Linked DNA regions of Homo sapiens. The protein of the gene in region 1 purifies or fractionates together with the protein of each later gene. This does not show direct contact. Each region holds a gene or a part of one and is shown on either strand. Other genes may lie near its edges.

Region 1 (7,725 bases):
CTCACTCCTGTAATCCCAGCACTTTGGGAGGCTAAGGCAGGTGGATGCCTTGAGCCCAGGAGCTGGAGACCAGCCTGGGCAACATGGTGAAACCCCATCTCTGCTAAAAAGACAAAAATTAGCCGGGTGTGGTGGTGCATGTCTGTAGTCTCAGCTACTTGGGAGGCTGAGGCAGGAGGATCGCTTGAGCCCGGGAGGTGGAGGTTGCAGTGAGTAGAGATCATGCCATTGCCCCAAGCCTGGGCAACAGAGCAAGACTCTGTCTTAAAAAAGAAATAAATTCCTCTTGTGGTTTAACTATAAAGTGTAACCCCCTTTTTGGACTTCATTTCCTCTTTTTTGCCCATCCCACCTTCACTGGAGCTAGAAGAAGATGGACCCATAAAGTAGGTCTGTATTTTTATAGCAACACTGGACACATTCTTCCTTGGATTTGAACTACCATTTTACTTTTTTTAAAGTAAAAATAGCTATAGCAATCAAGGCACTCAATACCTAGGAATAATTTTAATAAGAAGTATGTAAATTCTACATAATGAAAACTAAAATTCTACTGATGGGGTACCAATGACTTGAATGTATAGGAAGATAGGAAGATTCTTATCATACATTCTCCTTTAGATAATCTAAAAATATGTGATTCCAGCCAAAATAACAGTAACAGAATAGAAGAGTAAATTATGGTTCAATATAGCCTCACAATATTATACCACACAGTAGTCAGAATGAAGGGACTAAAACTATACACAATATGGCTGAATCTCACAGAAATAATTTGAACAAAGGAAGCCAGACACAAAAGAGTACATACTCTGTGATTCTCTTTATATAAAAAGCAAGAACAGGCAAAATTAGTTTATGGTATCAGGAGTCAGAAGAGTGGTTGTCCTTGAGAAGAGCAGTGACTGAGAGGGAACACACAAGTGGCTTCTGGGGCACTAGCAATGTTCTGTTTCTTGATCTGCTGCTGGTTACACAAATGTATTCCATTTGTGAAAATTCATCAAGATATATACTTGTCATTTGTGCATTTTTCTGCATGTATATTATAAATTAATTTTTTAAATTGTGGTAAAAAAAAAAACCATAATGTATACAATTTAAAAAATTTTTAGGCCGGGCGCAGTGGCTCATGCCTGTAATCCCAGCACTTTGGGAGGCCGAGGCGGGCGGATCACCAGGTCAGGAGACCGAGACCATCCTGGCTAACACGGTGAAACCCCGTCTCTACTAAAAATACAAAAAATTAGCCAGGTGTGGTGGTGGGCACCTGTAGTCCCAGCTATTCGGGAGGCTGAGGCAGGAGAATCGCTTGAACCAGGGAGTTGGAGGTTCCAGTGAGCCGAGATCGTGCCACTGCACTCCAGCCTGGGTGACAGAGTGAGACTCCGTCTAAAAAAAAAAAAAAAAAAATTAATGATCAATGGAACAAAATGAAAAAAATCCAGAAATAGACCCAAATACATATGGCAATTTGGTATTATAAAGGTAGCATTCAAAAACAATGGAGAAAACATGGGTTATTCAATAAGAAGGATTTGAATAAAACAAAACAAAATTGGATCTCTATCTCACACCTTTACACCAAAATAAATTCCAGATGAATCAAATATTTACATATACAAAGACACTATCAAAGTACTTTTTAAAAAAACATAGGAGCTTTAAGAATAATCTTAAATAGTGGGAGACTTTACTAAAAATTATATGAAACACAGAAGTTGGCCAGGCACAGTGGCTCACGCCTGTAATACCAATACTTTGGGAGGCTAAGGCGGGTGGATCACTTGAGGCCAGGAGTTTGAGACCAGTCTGGCCAACATGGCAAAACTACTCCGAGTCTACTAAAAAATACAAAAATTACCCAGGTATGGTGGTACATGCCTGTAATCCCAACTACTCAGGAGGCTGAGGCACGAGAATCTCTTCAACCTGGGAAGCAGAGGTTACAGTGGGCCAAGATCATGCCACTGCACTCCAGCCTGGGCGACAGAATGAGACTCTGCCTCAAAAAAAGAAAGAAAGAAACCCAGAAATTATCAAAGAAAATATTGATAAATTCAATTACATAAAAATTTTTAACATTTGCAAAGAATAACCATAAACAGGCTGAGGGCAATGGCTCAGGCCTGTAATCCTAGCACTTTGGGAGGCTGAGGCAGGCTGATCACCTGAGGTCAGGAGTTGGAGACCAGCCTCAAAATATGCAATATACATAGAACAAACTTGGAAAAGGGAAAATACTTGTTATATGTATAAACAATATACATAGAACAAACTGGGAAAAGGGACATACTTTTTTTTTTTTTTTTTGGAGATGGGGTCTCGCTCTGTTGCCCAGGCTGGAGTGCAGTGGCAATCTCGGCTCACTGCAACCACCGCTTCCCCAGTTCAAGTGATTCTCCTGCCTCAGTCTCCCAAGTAGCTGGGATTACAAGCGCTTGCCACCATAACCGGCTAATTTTTGTATTTTTAATAAAGACGGGGTTTCAGCATGTTGGCCAGGCTGGTCTTGAACTCCTGACCTCAGGTGATTAGCCTGCCTCAGCCTCCCAAAGTGCTGGGATTACAGGCGTGACCCACCACACCTGGCCGGGGAAAATACTTTTAACTTATATACAAACAGCAAGTATTAAGAAATGACCCTATAACCAATAAAAATATGAACAGAATATAAAAACAGAGAATTTACAAAAAAATTGCCATTTAAATATATTAAAAGATGCTCAACTTTACTTATAAGAGCAATGAAATTTTATCTTGCAATGAGATAGCATTTACACTATCAGATTGTCAAAAATCAGGAAGTTTAACAGCACCAGTGTGCTATCAAACAGGTTCTTTTCATACATTGCTGACAGGAGACAAAATTGGTAAAATTTCCAGGGAAGGCAATTTGGTAATACTAACTAAAATCATTTTCAAAAATTGCTGGTGGGATTAAAATTATAAAAATCTTTGTGGGAGGAAGGGAATTTACAAAATTTTATCTATCCAAATGAAAAAACAATGCACACATTTCTTTAACTTGGCACTTGCATTTCTAAGTATTTATCATACACATATGCAAGAGGGAAATGAAGTATCCTTGCATATCAATCAAATGTTAAAGGACTGGTTAAATATATCTTCATATATCCCTCAGGCATACTATGAAACTATCACTATGAGGCAGATACGTATATGCTGCTACGGAAACATTTCCAGACTGTATCAAAGAAAGTTGCAAAATAGTATGTATGTTATCAACTGGGTTAAAAAAATATATGTGTGTGTATATATATATACACTTTATATATTACACATATACACACGTTAACTATAGAATATCTTGTGAAATTTTTCACAAGAAACTGGTAACCCTAGTTGCCTTGAAGGAAGGAAAATTTATTCACTATAATAACCTTGTTTCTTCTGAATTTTGTAGAATGTAAATGTATTACTTATTCAAAACGCATACACATTTTTATATTAATAGAAAGCAAAACCTGAGGCCCAAAGGCATCTGCCTAATTGACAAAAGATACAACCTTGCGTTCTTTCAGCAAATATTTATTGCTCATCACCTGCCAGGTATTGTGATGGAAGCTAGTGCGGAAGATCCCCCAATGACCAGGATCGCCCGACCCCTGTTCCCAGGGTGAGCCCCTAGCGCGGAGCGGGGACAGGGTGGACCGAGTAGGGCGCAGTGCTGGTCTCGCGAGGCTCCCTGCCCCACGGAGGCAGTAGCAGGACCCAACCGTTCCTAACCGTCCAGGGACCAGGACAGCGTCTGGAATAAAATCTTCCAAAGCAAACTTCCGCCTGCGGAGACCCGCTCCCTTCCTCGCCCCCACAGAAACGCCCCCCGCCACCACCCCCTCCCCCGGCGTAGGCCTTCACGCTGTCGCCTCGACCCGTTTCCTCGAATCCCCAGGGAAGGGTGGGCCCCTGGCGCCCCTATGGCCCGCCGCCCCCTTACCACCGCGGTCGGAGCCCGGGTCTCACTCTCCTGCCGCTGTTTCGGGCCACACCGTGTGTCCGTGCCTCCGCAAAGGAATAGAAGAGTGGGTCCTCGCTCTCTGCGGCGCACCGCTTGTCCCTTGACTTCCTGTCCATCTACAAAGCCTATTTCATGTTTTCCAGAAAGAAAACGTTTTCCGTGTCTCTTGAGTCCTCATCGCCATATGCGGGGCGGGACCGATCTATGCAAAAGATCGCAAGAGAAAACTGATGGAGCATCGCCCATCATGAGGCTGCTCTCCCGATGGTCACTGAGTTGTGTTGTGGCACTGTCTTTGTACAAAGACACCAATTTTTGCGAACGGTGCCACTCATGATTCAACGCTCTCATGCCTCGGTCCCAGCTGCTGGAGCGCAGATTTTCCTCCAAGGGTTAGAAGATAGAAAACTCCTCGGTAATTGGCCTAGAGGTGGTCTGCGAGGACGCCGGGAAGCTTGTAATTGGCTGTTTAATTCTCAGCAGGTGCGGTCTCAGTTAACAACATCTGCTTTTCCTGGATCTTATTGGCTGACAGGGTGGGCCTGCTTTGGATTCCATCCGGGTAATTGGGCAGCGGCTAGCAGCAGCCACGTCGCTCAGGGGCAGCCCGCGGAAGGATTGGTTGTGACGGGAGAAGGCGATTGGTCGGACTGCGAGCAGGGTGTTGATTGGTGCTGTCGGGCTGCGGGGGCGGGGAAGTGGCGGCTGAAGCGCCGCCGGCGGGGCTCACTGTGGTGGTGTGAGTGGGAGGCGGCGGCGCTGGTGGCTGCAGCTGGGGTGAGGCGCGAGGCGGCGCACTCGACGGCTGACTGGAGCAGCGGTAAAGGCGAGGATGGAGACCGAAGGTTTGGGGAGTGGGAAAGACAGGGTCATGGGCAGCCCTGGCCACTAGGAGACGGAAATGCGGGAGCGAGGGAAGGGAGGGGTCTGGCGTGCCCCGGGGCGAGGGAAGGATGTGGGGCGCAGCGGGGGAGTCAGAGCCCTGGGCTGTGAGACGCCGCTCGGGGGCAACTTGACCCACTGGGAACTCGTAACTGTATCTGAGGAAGATGCTCCAGTCACCCGCTTACGCCACAACGGACCCGGTGCGGGAGCGTTTGTGTTTGCCCTGAGTCAGTTCAGACTCTTCCACTGGGCCTTTTTGAGACTGAGAGCTGCCATCCGTATATCACTTTGCCTTTAACTTTCCCCAGCTTTTTCTTTAGTTATCGCTAATAGGATGGCTGTTTACAGTCGTCAGAATAATACATTGGGGTTTTTGTTTTTCCAGTATCCCTCATTCCTTAATCCAGGTATCATCGTGGGGGTTGGCTGGAGACCCCTATTTCAAAGACTGACTTTTAGACCCTTTCCTTGTTTTGAGAGAAAGGGGTTGACACTTTTTTTTTTCTCGTGAATTTAAAATAAACGTACCAAGGATGAGAACATTGAGCTGCTTCGATTCAAGCATGTCACCATGTTGTAGGTTCTTTGTAGGTTCTGGTTATTAGGAGATACTGGAATGAGTTATCTATGCTTTCATGGAGCTAACAATGTGATTTGACTTCTCATCACATCCTATTTGACTCCTGTCATTTTAAATGATAAAGTAAGCCTTAGCGATGCATATCAGATAGTTTTTGGCAATTGTTCAATACAAATGTCAGGAAATTTCAAAGTTAGCTTTCACTGAAAACCATTATCTAACCACATTCCTCACTGAACAATGATCCTCATCTTCTCTTCTTAGCTTCCCCTAGAAACTGTGGTCTTAAGTTCTAGTATTTTCCTCCTTCCCATTCAATTTTTAAGTAATAAAATCAAACACAAGCTAGCAGTCAGTACTATGCAGTTATCCCCGTTTACATTATATTATTTTCCATTTCTCTTTAAGAGAAACTTATAGCTGAAAGGATATGAAAATTGTGAACAAAACCATAGTGACAGATCAAGTAGAGTCTCATTTTTTGAGACATCAGCTGATAACTCAATTAGCACAAATTCATTTGTAATGTTTGAAGAGGAGTTAGTGAAATTTACCTTTTGCTTCAAATAGAAGTCGGCCAAAACCGCACCTATAATCTCAGCTACGCCGGACGACTGCGGGAGTTCAAGGCTGCAGTGAGCTATTATCATTCACTGCATTCCATCCTGGGTGACAGACCAAGGCTCTGTCTCTAAATAAACAACAACAAACTCTCCAATTCATCTGTTCTCCATCTCCATCATTGACACCTGGACTAGGCCCTGATTGGTCTCCTGCAGCCACGGTTGCTGCCTTCAATTCATTCTCCTCACCACGGACACAGATGTTAATCAAGAATGACAAGCATGGCATGTGTTATCAAGGGATATTGGGGATTCTGTGGAAACCCATAGCAATGTAATTCAACCCAGTGTAGGGGGTCGAGATTGAGGGGCCTTGGCTGCAGAGACCCCTCTGCACTTGATCTTGATAGTGTCAGAACTGGAAAACAAAAGTGCTGCTAGTCCTTTGGGCCTCTGTAAAGAGGTGTGATTATGACTGGCCATCAAAACAGACTTATTTCTATTGCACACTGTATTGTGTAGAAATGACTAATGAGCTGTGTGATCTTAGATCAATCCTTTTCTATCCCTTAGCCGCAGTTTCCCAAATTGCAACGTTATTAATGGAATCAAATAAGTTCTGTAGTCCCTTCTAGTTATAAAATCTTGTGATTTCTATGCCCCATAAGCATCAATTATGGCCAGTTTTTAAAAGCAGACAGCATGAAAATACAGATCCAGTTTATTCTTGTTCACAGGGCTAGATTTCAGTTTCCCAAAGCCCTTAAGACCTAAAGACTCCTGCCTGTCAAGATCTTCCTTGCCAGACAGGAAACTCCATGAAGGCAGCTGCCAAATCTATCTTGACTGTTGTGTCCCGAGGGTCAAGCACACATCAGAATTCGATATTTATTGGCTTGAATAAATGTCCATTTAGTGCAGTTCATTCATGTAGTATAGGTTTGCGGAAGAAAAGTGAGTTGTATTTTAATGAGATGATTTTCAACTATACACCATCTAAGAAATAAACCTTAAGGTTCTAGCTACTTTCAACTGTCGCATTGACCAAGAATTTATACAGTTGTCCCTCCCTTCGTTATTTGCAGGGGATTGGTTCCAGGAACCCTGCAGAACCCAAATCCATAGATGCTCATGTCCCTTGTATAAGATGCATATTATTTGTATATAACCTACACACATCTTGCCCTATACTTTTTTTTTTTAAACCCCTTGAGACAAATTCTCGCTCTGTTGCCCAGGGTGGAGTGCAGTGGTGTCATCAGTTTACTGCAGCTTCCACCTCCTGGGCTCAAGCCATCTCCCACCTCGGCCTCCTGAGTAGCTGGAACTACAGGTGTGCAACACCACGCCTAGCTAATTTTTTTTTTTTTTTTTTTTTTTTTTTTTTTGTAGAAACAGAGTCTCACTATGTTGCCCAGGCTAGTCTTGAATACTTGGTCTCAAGCAGTCCTCCTACCTTAGCCTCTCAAAGTGCTGGGATTAACAGGCATGAGCCACTGTGCCCAGCCTGTTTTGGTGTTTATGTTTCCTAGACTATGAATATTTCCAAGTAGAAATTCTTCTTCCTCCTTCTGTCCCCAACGTGCTCAGCACACAAGAAAGAGCTAGCACTATTTAACCAAGATGCATTAATAATGGAAACAAGCTTTGCACTTTAGTGGTCATATAAGAAAATACCTAAGCCAGGCGCAGTGGCTCACGCCTGTAATCCCAGC
Region 2 (7,087 bases), on another chromosome or scaffold:
AACCCCTTATCTGATAATATAGTTTGTATAAGCTTTTAAAAAATAAATTGTATATATTTAAGGTATACGACATGATGTTAATGACATACACACACATATTAAAATGGTTATTATAGCCAGGCACTGTGGCTCACACCTGTAATCCCAGCACTTTGGGAGGCCAAGGTGGGCGGATCACCTGAGGTCAGGTGTTCGAGACCAGCCTGGCCAACATGGTGAACTCCCATCTCTACTAAAAGTACAAAAATTAGCTAGGCGTGGTGTCAGGCACCTGTAATCCCAGCTGCTCAGGAGGCTGAGGCAGGAGAATCGCTTGAACCAGGGAGGTGGAGGTTGCAGTGAGCTGAGATGGCCCCATGGCACTCCTGTCTGGGCAGCAAAGCGAGACTCTGTCTCAAAAAATAAAAAATAAACACAAACGGCCAGGCACGGTGGCTCACACCTGTAATCCCAGCACTTTGGGAGGCCAAGGTGGGCGGATCACCTGATGTGAGGTGTTCGAGACCAGCCTGGCCAACATGGTGAAACCCCGTCTCCACTAAACATACAAAAATTAGCCGGGCGTGGTGGTGGGTGCCTGTAATCCCAGCTACTCTGGAGGCTGAGGCAGGAGAATTGCTTGAATCTGGGAGACGGAGGTTGCCGTGAGCCAAGATCACGTCACTGCTGACAGAGCAAGACTCCATCTGAAAAATAAATGAATAAAAAACTAGGCCGGGCACGGTGGCTCACGCCTGTAATCCCAGCACTTTGGGAGGCCGAGGAGGGCAGATAGTGAGGTCAGGAGATCGAGACCATCCTGGCTAACATAGTGAAACCCCATCTCTACTAAAAATACGAAAAATTAGCTGGGCGTGGTGGCGGGCACCTGTAGTCCCAGCTACTTGGGAGGCTGAGGCAGGAGAATGGCGTGAACCTGGGAGGCAGAGCTTGCAAAGTGAGCTGAGATCGCACCACTGCACTCCAGCCTGGGCAACAGAGCAAGACTCCGTCTCAAATAAATAAATAAATAAATAAACTAATAACTAAATGTTGTAACACAAAAGAGGATAAATGCTTAAGGTGATGGATATCCTGTTTACCCTGATGTGATTATTACAAATTGCATGTCTGTACCAAAATATCTCATGTACCCGATAAATATATATACCTACTATATACCGACAAAGTTAAAAATAGAAACTGGAAGACAAAAAATAAATAAAAATCAAATAAAGCTTCTCATTTTGTTGTCTGCCTTTGGTAGATTTCCAGCCCTGAAGTGGCTGTTTTTGAAAACTGTTTTCCCCCAGTTTTATTTTTGTTTATCCCTCTCTGGAGGGATTTGAGTCCTTCTTTATACCTCCACAACTCCAAGTCCCTCCTCTCATTATCGTTTTAGATGAGGAAAGTGAAGCTCAGAAGAGATGAATCAATTTGCCCTAGACCATGCAGCTAGGAAGCCTGGGAGCCAGCACTAAACTCAAGTGTTCTTTTTCTTTGTTAAGAATTTTATTCGCCAGGCACGGTGGCTCACACCTGTAATTCCAGCACTTTGGGAGGCCGAGGCAGGCTGATCACGAGGTCAGGCGATCGAGACCATCCTAGCTAACACGATGAAACCCCGTCTCTACTAAAAATACAAAAACAAAAATTTAGCCGATGTGGTGGTGTGCATTTGTAGTCCCAGCTACTTGGGAGGCTGAGGCAGGAGAATTGCTTGAACCCAGGAGGTGAAGGTTGCAGTGAGCCGAGATCGTGCCACTGCACTCCAGACTGGGCGACAGAGCGAGACTTCATCTCAAAAAAAAAAAAAAGAAGGCCGGGTGCGGTGGCTCACGCCTGTAATCCCAGCACTTTGGGAGGCCGAGGCAGGTGGATCACGAGGTCAGGAGTTCGAGACCAGCACGGCCAAGATGGTGAAACCCCATCTCTACTAAAAATACAAAAATTAGCCGGGTGTGGTGGTGGGCGCCTGTAATCCCAGCTGCTCGGGAGGCTGACGCAGAGACTCACTTGAACCCCGGAGGCAGAGGTTGCAGTGAGCCGAGATCGCACCACTGCACACCAGCCTGGGCGAAAGAACGAGGCTCCGTCTTAAAAAAAAAAAAAAGAATTTTATTGACATAATCACTGACATACATTTTTAGTTATTTACACCATACAATTTGACATATGTATATACCTGTGAAACCACCACAGTCAACCCGATAAGCACACATCCATCACTCCACTTCCTTGTGGCTTTGTTGGCCTCCAGGCTACACTGGTCTGCTTTCCCTCAATCTAGTTTGCATTTTCTAGAATTTTATGTAAATGGAATCATACAGTATGTACTCTTTTTGTCTGGCTTTTCCCACTCAATATTAATGAAATTCATCCACGTCGTAGCACATGTGAGTACTGTTTTTTTTTTTTTTTGGTGGGGGGGGGATAGGGTCTTGCTGTGTCACCCAGGCTGGAGTGCAATGGCATGATCTTGGCTCACTGCAACCTTAGTCTCCAGAGCTCAAGCGATTCTCCCACCTCAGCCTCCCGAGTAGCTGGGATCACAGGCACGTCAGCGCACTCAGCTAATTTTTGTATTTTTTGGTAGAGACAGTGTTTCACCATGTTGGCCAAGCTGGTTTCGAATTCCCGAACTCAAGCTGTCCTCCTGCCTCAGCCTCCCAAAGTTCTGGGATAACAGGCATGAACCACCGTGCCAGGCCACTTCATTCTATTTTATTGCTAAATAGCATTCCCTTGTACAGATATACAAAAGCTTATTTACCTGTTTACCTGCTGACGCCTTTTTGGGTTGTTCTAGGCACATACGCCTGCCAGGACACGTGCTTGTGTTAATGGATCCCGCCCTTTCTCCTAGGAGTGGGATAGCTGGATCATATGGAAGGTGCAAGTTTAATATTTTAATAAACTTTTAATTTAGAATAATTTGCTTTACAGAAAAGTTTCGAATATAGAACAGAGAGATCCATTTACCCCCACGCAGCTTCCTTTGTTAACCTTTTACATTCCTTTCATACATTTGTCAAAGCTAAGAAACTGACATTGGTACAATGCGATTAAGCTCCAGACTTTATTTGGCTCTCACCAGTTTTTCCGTGAATGTCTTCTTTCGGTTCCAGGATCCAGCCCAGACCACCACATTGCCCCGTTTCCCTATGCCCCCGGCCCAGTGCCCTCGGCTGCCTTAGTCTCTTCCTCTGTTTATGCTTAAAGCAGGGCAGGCCTTCCAACAACGCCGGCTGGAAAAAACCTCTTGGGCTAGGAAAAAACCTCTGGGCCGACACCGCCTCCAGTATGCTGGGTTCCAATGCTGCCTCCAGCTGTGTTGATTCCCTGATTATCTGTGTTCCCAGGTCATTCCCCAGCCCAGCCTAGCTGCTCCCGAGAAGACAGTGAAGGTGTGACCCCACATTTCCAGAGCAGCTCTGCTGTGCTCCATGCGAGGAAAGCCGGGGTTGCTGTGGCTTCTAGCGCGGAGAGCGGTCTCTGGCCTGGGCAGGTGACGGGTGTGCTAGGGCCCGTGGCCCGCGGGTGTGCAGGTGCTGCCTGGTGGCGCGGGCTTGGGGACGTGGCTTGGCACGTGGTGGGAGGTGGAACCTGGAGGGCGTGGCCGAGCGCCTGGCTGGAAGGAAAATGGGGGGCACAGCCTGGCGTTGGGGGGTGGAGGGTGTCTGTGGCAGGGGGCGTGGCCTGGCGCGTGGAGGGAGGCGTGGTCACCTGTTGAGGGTTGGGGGCGGGCTGATGGGAGGCGTGGGTTCAGCTTGGTGCGTGACAGTTGTGGGGGCATGGCGCGGCCTAGCGCGTGGCCCTCGGGGGCTGAGGGCGTGACCTTGCACGTGGCCGTTGGTGGGGCGTGACGGGGGCGTGGCCTGGCGTGTGGCCATGGGTGCTGGGCGTGGCCTGGCACGTGGCCTGGCACGTGGCCGTTGGCGCTGCGTGACGGGGGCGTGGCCTGGTGCGTGGCAATTGGCAGGACGTGATAGGGCGTGGCCTGGCGCGTGGCCATGGGGGGCTGGGCGTGGCCTGGCACATGGCCGCTGGCGGCGCGTGACGGGGGCGTGGCCTGGCGGTCTAGGGCTGGGGGCGCGCAGACTCCGCTGCGGCGGCGTGGCTGTGGGTCCCGGATTAGCGGCGGCATGGGACGGTTGAGTTGGCAGGTGGCGGCCGCGGCGGCTGTGGGCCTGGCTCTGACTCTGGAGGCGCTGCCTTGGGTGCTGCGCTGGCTGCGGTCCAGGCGGCGGCGGCCGCGGCGCGAGGCGCTGTTCTTCCCGTCTCAGGTGACCTGTACCGAGGCCCTGCTGCGGGCTCCGGGCGCGGAGCTGGCCGAGCTCCCCGAGGGCTGCCCGTGCGGCCTGCCCCACGGCGAGAGCGCGCTAAGCCGCCTGCTGCGTGCCCTGCTGGCCGCCCGCGCCAGCCTGGATCTCTGCCTGTTCGCCTTCTCCAGCCCGCAGCTGGGCCGCGCCGTGCAGTTGCTGCACCAGCGTGGGGTGCGAGTGCGGGTCGTCACCGACTGCGACTACATGGCCCTCAACGGCTCGCAAATCGGTCTGCTGCGCAAGGCAGGTAGGCCCGGCGGGGTCCAAGCGGAGAAGGCCGGCTTGGCCCACGCGGGGTCCTAGGCGCAAAGGTGGACACTTAGGGGAGGGGGTCTGGGGACGGGCTGAGGCCTCATTTACTTTCCTCGTGGCCTTGTGGGGTCGGGGTGGTGTAACGCGGAGAAAGCAGAGCCCCCACAGAAGGTCTAGCCGGCTGCGTGGGCATAAGCGAGCCGGACCCTCGGTGCCTCCGCGGTGGGGGCGGTTCTCTCAGTGAACTGTCCCGGCATGCTGGAAGCAGGTGGGCCTGCGTGTGCCGGGTTAGAGGCGGAGCAGATTCCCCTAGCAACTCCTCGGGCGCCGCCGGCGGAGTTTTCGTGACTGCTGCAGCCCGGGCCCGCCCTCCTACGCTGCCGGAGATCCCCGGACGGCCTCTGGTAACCTGGATCCTGGTGGCAGGGGAGCTGGACGCCAGGGTTGTGCTTGGACTTCCAGACTGAAGGGCTCTGGGGAGAGGCGGCCACCTGCTGCCCAGTGAATCTCAGGCCACTGGGCTCTGGGAGACCTGAACATGTTCTAGAAAGCAGCGCCAGGACATTCGGTTGTTTTCCCAGCTGCAAAAGGAGGGGAACACATATTTCTGGCGGGGGCGCCTCTCTCATGGGGTGGGGACAGAAGGGACCAGGAAATGTGAATAATTGGGATCCTTGTCCCACCTGAGGATTCTCAGTCCATCCTGGCCCAGTTCGGCGGCCCAGCCTGCTGTTGCCTTTTGTGTATCTGCACTCACAGACTCTTGGGCCTGTCTCTGTCTCCATCACTCAGGCACCCAGAAAGTCACGCCTGCACGTGCAACGGTTGGATCTGATAATACTGGTGGTCGCAGTGACCGAGAGATGTGTGGAGCCCTGGGAATTGTCCAGGCTGGGCAGTGGTCACCGCCGCGCTGTTCCTTCTGCACAGCCATAGCCTCTTGTTGACTTGGGCCTCAGAGCAGCCTCTCCAGAGTCAGCCAGGGTCCCTCCCTGCTCTGGGTGGTGTGGGGCATGTTGCACGCCATGTGGGAGCAGAGTGGGGCACGTGGTTTTCATATTGAGGATGTCTCCTTCTCTTTGGGGCAGCCACAAGAGCTGTCCTCCCATGTGTTGGTCATTTTAACGGGAGGTTTGGGGACCTCCAGGCATGCACAGTACAGTTCTGTTTGAGTTGCTTTTACAGTCGTAGAAGCTGAGGTTGGTGAAGACCCTTCAAGGGCCCCTAGACCAAGGTCCCATCGGATCCCCTCTGGGATGGCCTCCCAGCATCCTCGCTGACTTCGAGGCTGTCCAGTGGCATTCACTGTTCAAGGAATGTCCCCTCTGTGCCAGTATTTGTGAGGAGCTGGAACATCCTAGGGCACAAGGGCACAAGGCCAGGTTGCCACGGAGATGCCAACTAAGTCATGAATATTTCATTTAGGGCACTGAGAAGGGCCAAGAAAACTTCATAAAGCAGGGTAAGGAGGCAGTGGTGTGGGAGGAAGTGGCGTGGGCCAGGTCAGCTGCCCAGGGGCAGTGACACTCAGGGCAGGGACCTTGCTGACACCAGTGGACTGTTCGGAGGGAGAGGCATGCGGCTGGAAGGGGCAGCAGCACAGTCGCCCTGGGTCACAGACTGACTTCCTTTTGAGGAAGGGCAGGAAGTCCCCTGTGGCCAGAGGTGGCAGGCCGCGGGGAGGGGACGGGGAGGTGGGCAGTGGATCCCAGCGGAGGCAGGAGGTGTGGGCGATGGTGGGGTTTTACATTGCCCACCGTGTGGAGGAATGTGTTTGGAGGGCTGTGCCGACAGGACGTGCCAGAGGAGTGGCCAGAGTGTGAGAAGAAGGGCTGGCTCCTCGAGGTAAGGAAGCCACCACGTCTTCATCCTGCCAGGCCCAATTTAGGGGGCACAATTAAATATGAGTTCCATGCACAGGGAGTGATTTTTAGGGTATGTTCCCAGTACTCCATGGGACACACTTCCCTTCAAAGATTACTCTTTATCTGAAATTCCATTTAACTTGGATGTTCTGTATTTTGATTCGGAAAATCTGGCAACTGTGTTCCATGGCAGCCTGTTTAAAACTTCTTTTAAGCCCCATTTCTGACGGCCTCATTCCTTAAGCAGGTCGTGAGTGAGGCAGTGTTATTCCAGGGGAGACAGACACAGGCCCTTCCCAAGAGGAGTTTGAAAGCTGGGAAGAGCAGAGGCCGGGATGCCTGGTTCTTTGGTGAAGGAAGCAGGGGGGTGCGGAAGAGGAGAATTCATTTGTGCGTTGTTAGTTAGGGCCCTTCCTGCCTTGGTGGCCGAGGTTGTGCCAGCAAATTGGGCTCTGCTCTCAGACGCCGGGGCCTCTCTGGGCAGAGTGGGCACGCTCTCAGCCTTAGCTGTGGAAGAGTCAGAACCTGAAGGCTCACACGCTGTCTTTGCCCTGGTCACCTCTGACTGGGTTAGTGACAGCCTTGGCAGCAAGCAGTAACCCCGAAGGGACATACTGGCTGGCATAGACTCGGAGGTGTGGCCTCACCCAGACCACGGCCTGCCCA

Evidence for each region. Proteins that work in one complex are often made in the same cells at the same time.
Region 2: the proteins of TDRKH (region 1) and PLD6 purify together in Homo sapiens (affinity purification with mass spectrometry; 2 studies listed by BioGRID and IntAct, with this or other methods). This does not show direct contact.

What each region holds. Positions count from the first base shown.
Region 1 is NC_000001.11:151,787,482-151,795,206, reverse strand, and holds the start of TDRKH (tudor and KH domain-containing protein), read left to right. Parts: upstream 1-4,706; 5' UTR 4,707-4,827; intron 4,828-7,725. UniProt on the Homo sapiens protein: Participates in the primary piRNA biogenesis pathway and is required during spermatogenesis to repress transposable elements and prevent their mobilization, which is essential for the germline integrity.
Region 2 is NC_000017.11:17,203,324-17,210,410, reverse strand, and holds the start of PLD6 (mitochondrial cardiolipin hydrolase), read left to right. Parts: upstream 1-4,077; 5' UTR 4,078-4,124; coding exon 4,125-4,551; intron 4,552-7,087. UniProt on the Homo sapiens protein: Presents phospholipase and nuclease activities, depending on the different physiological conditions. Interaction with Mitoguardin (MIGA1 or MIGA2) affects the dimer conformation, facilitating the lipase activity over the nuclease activity.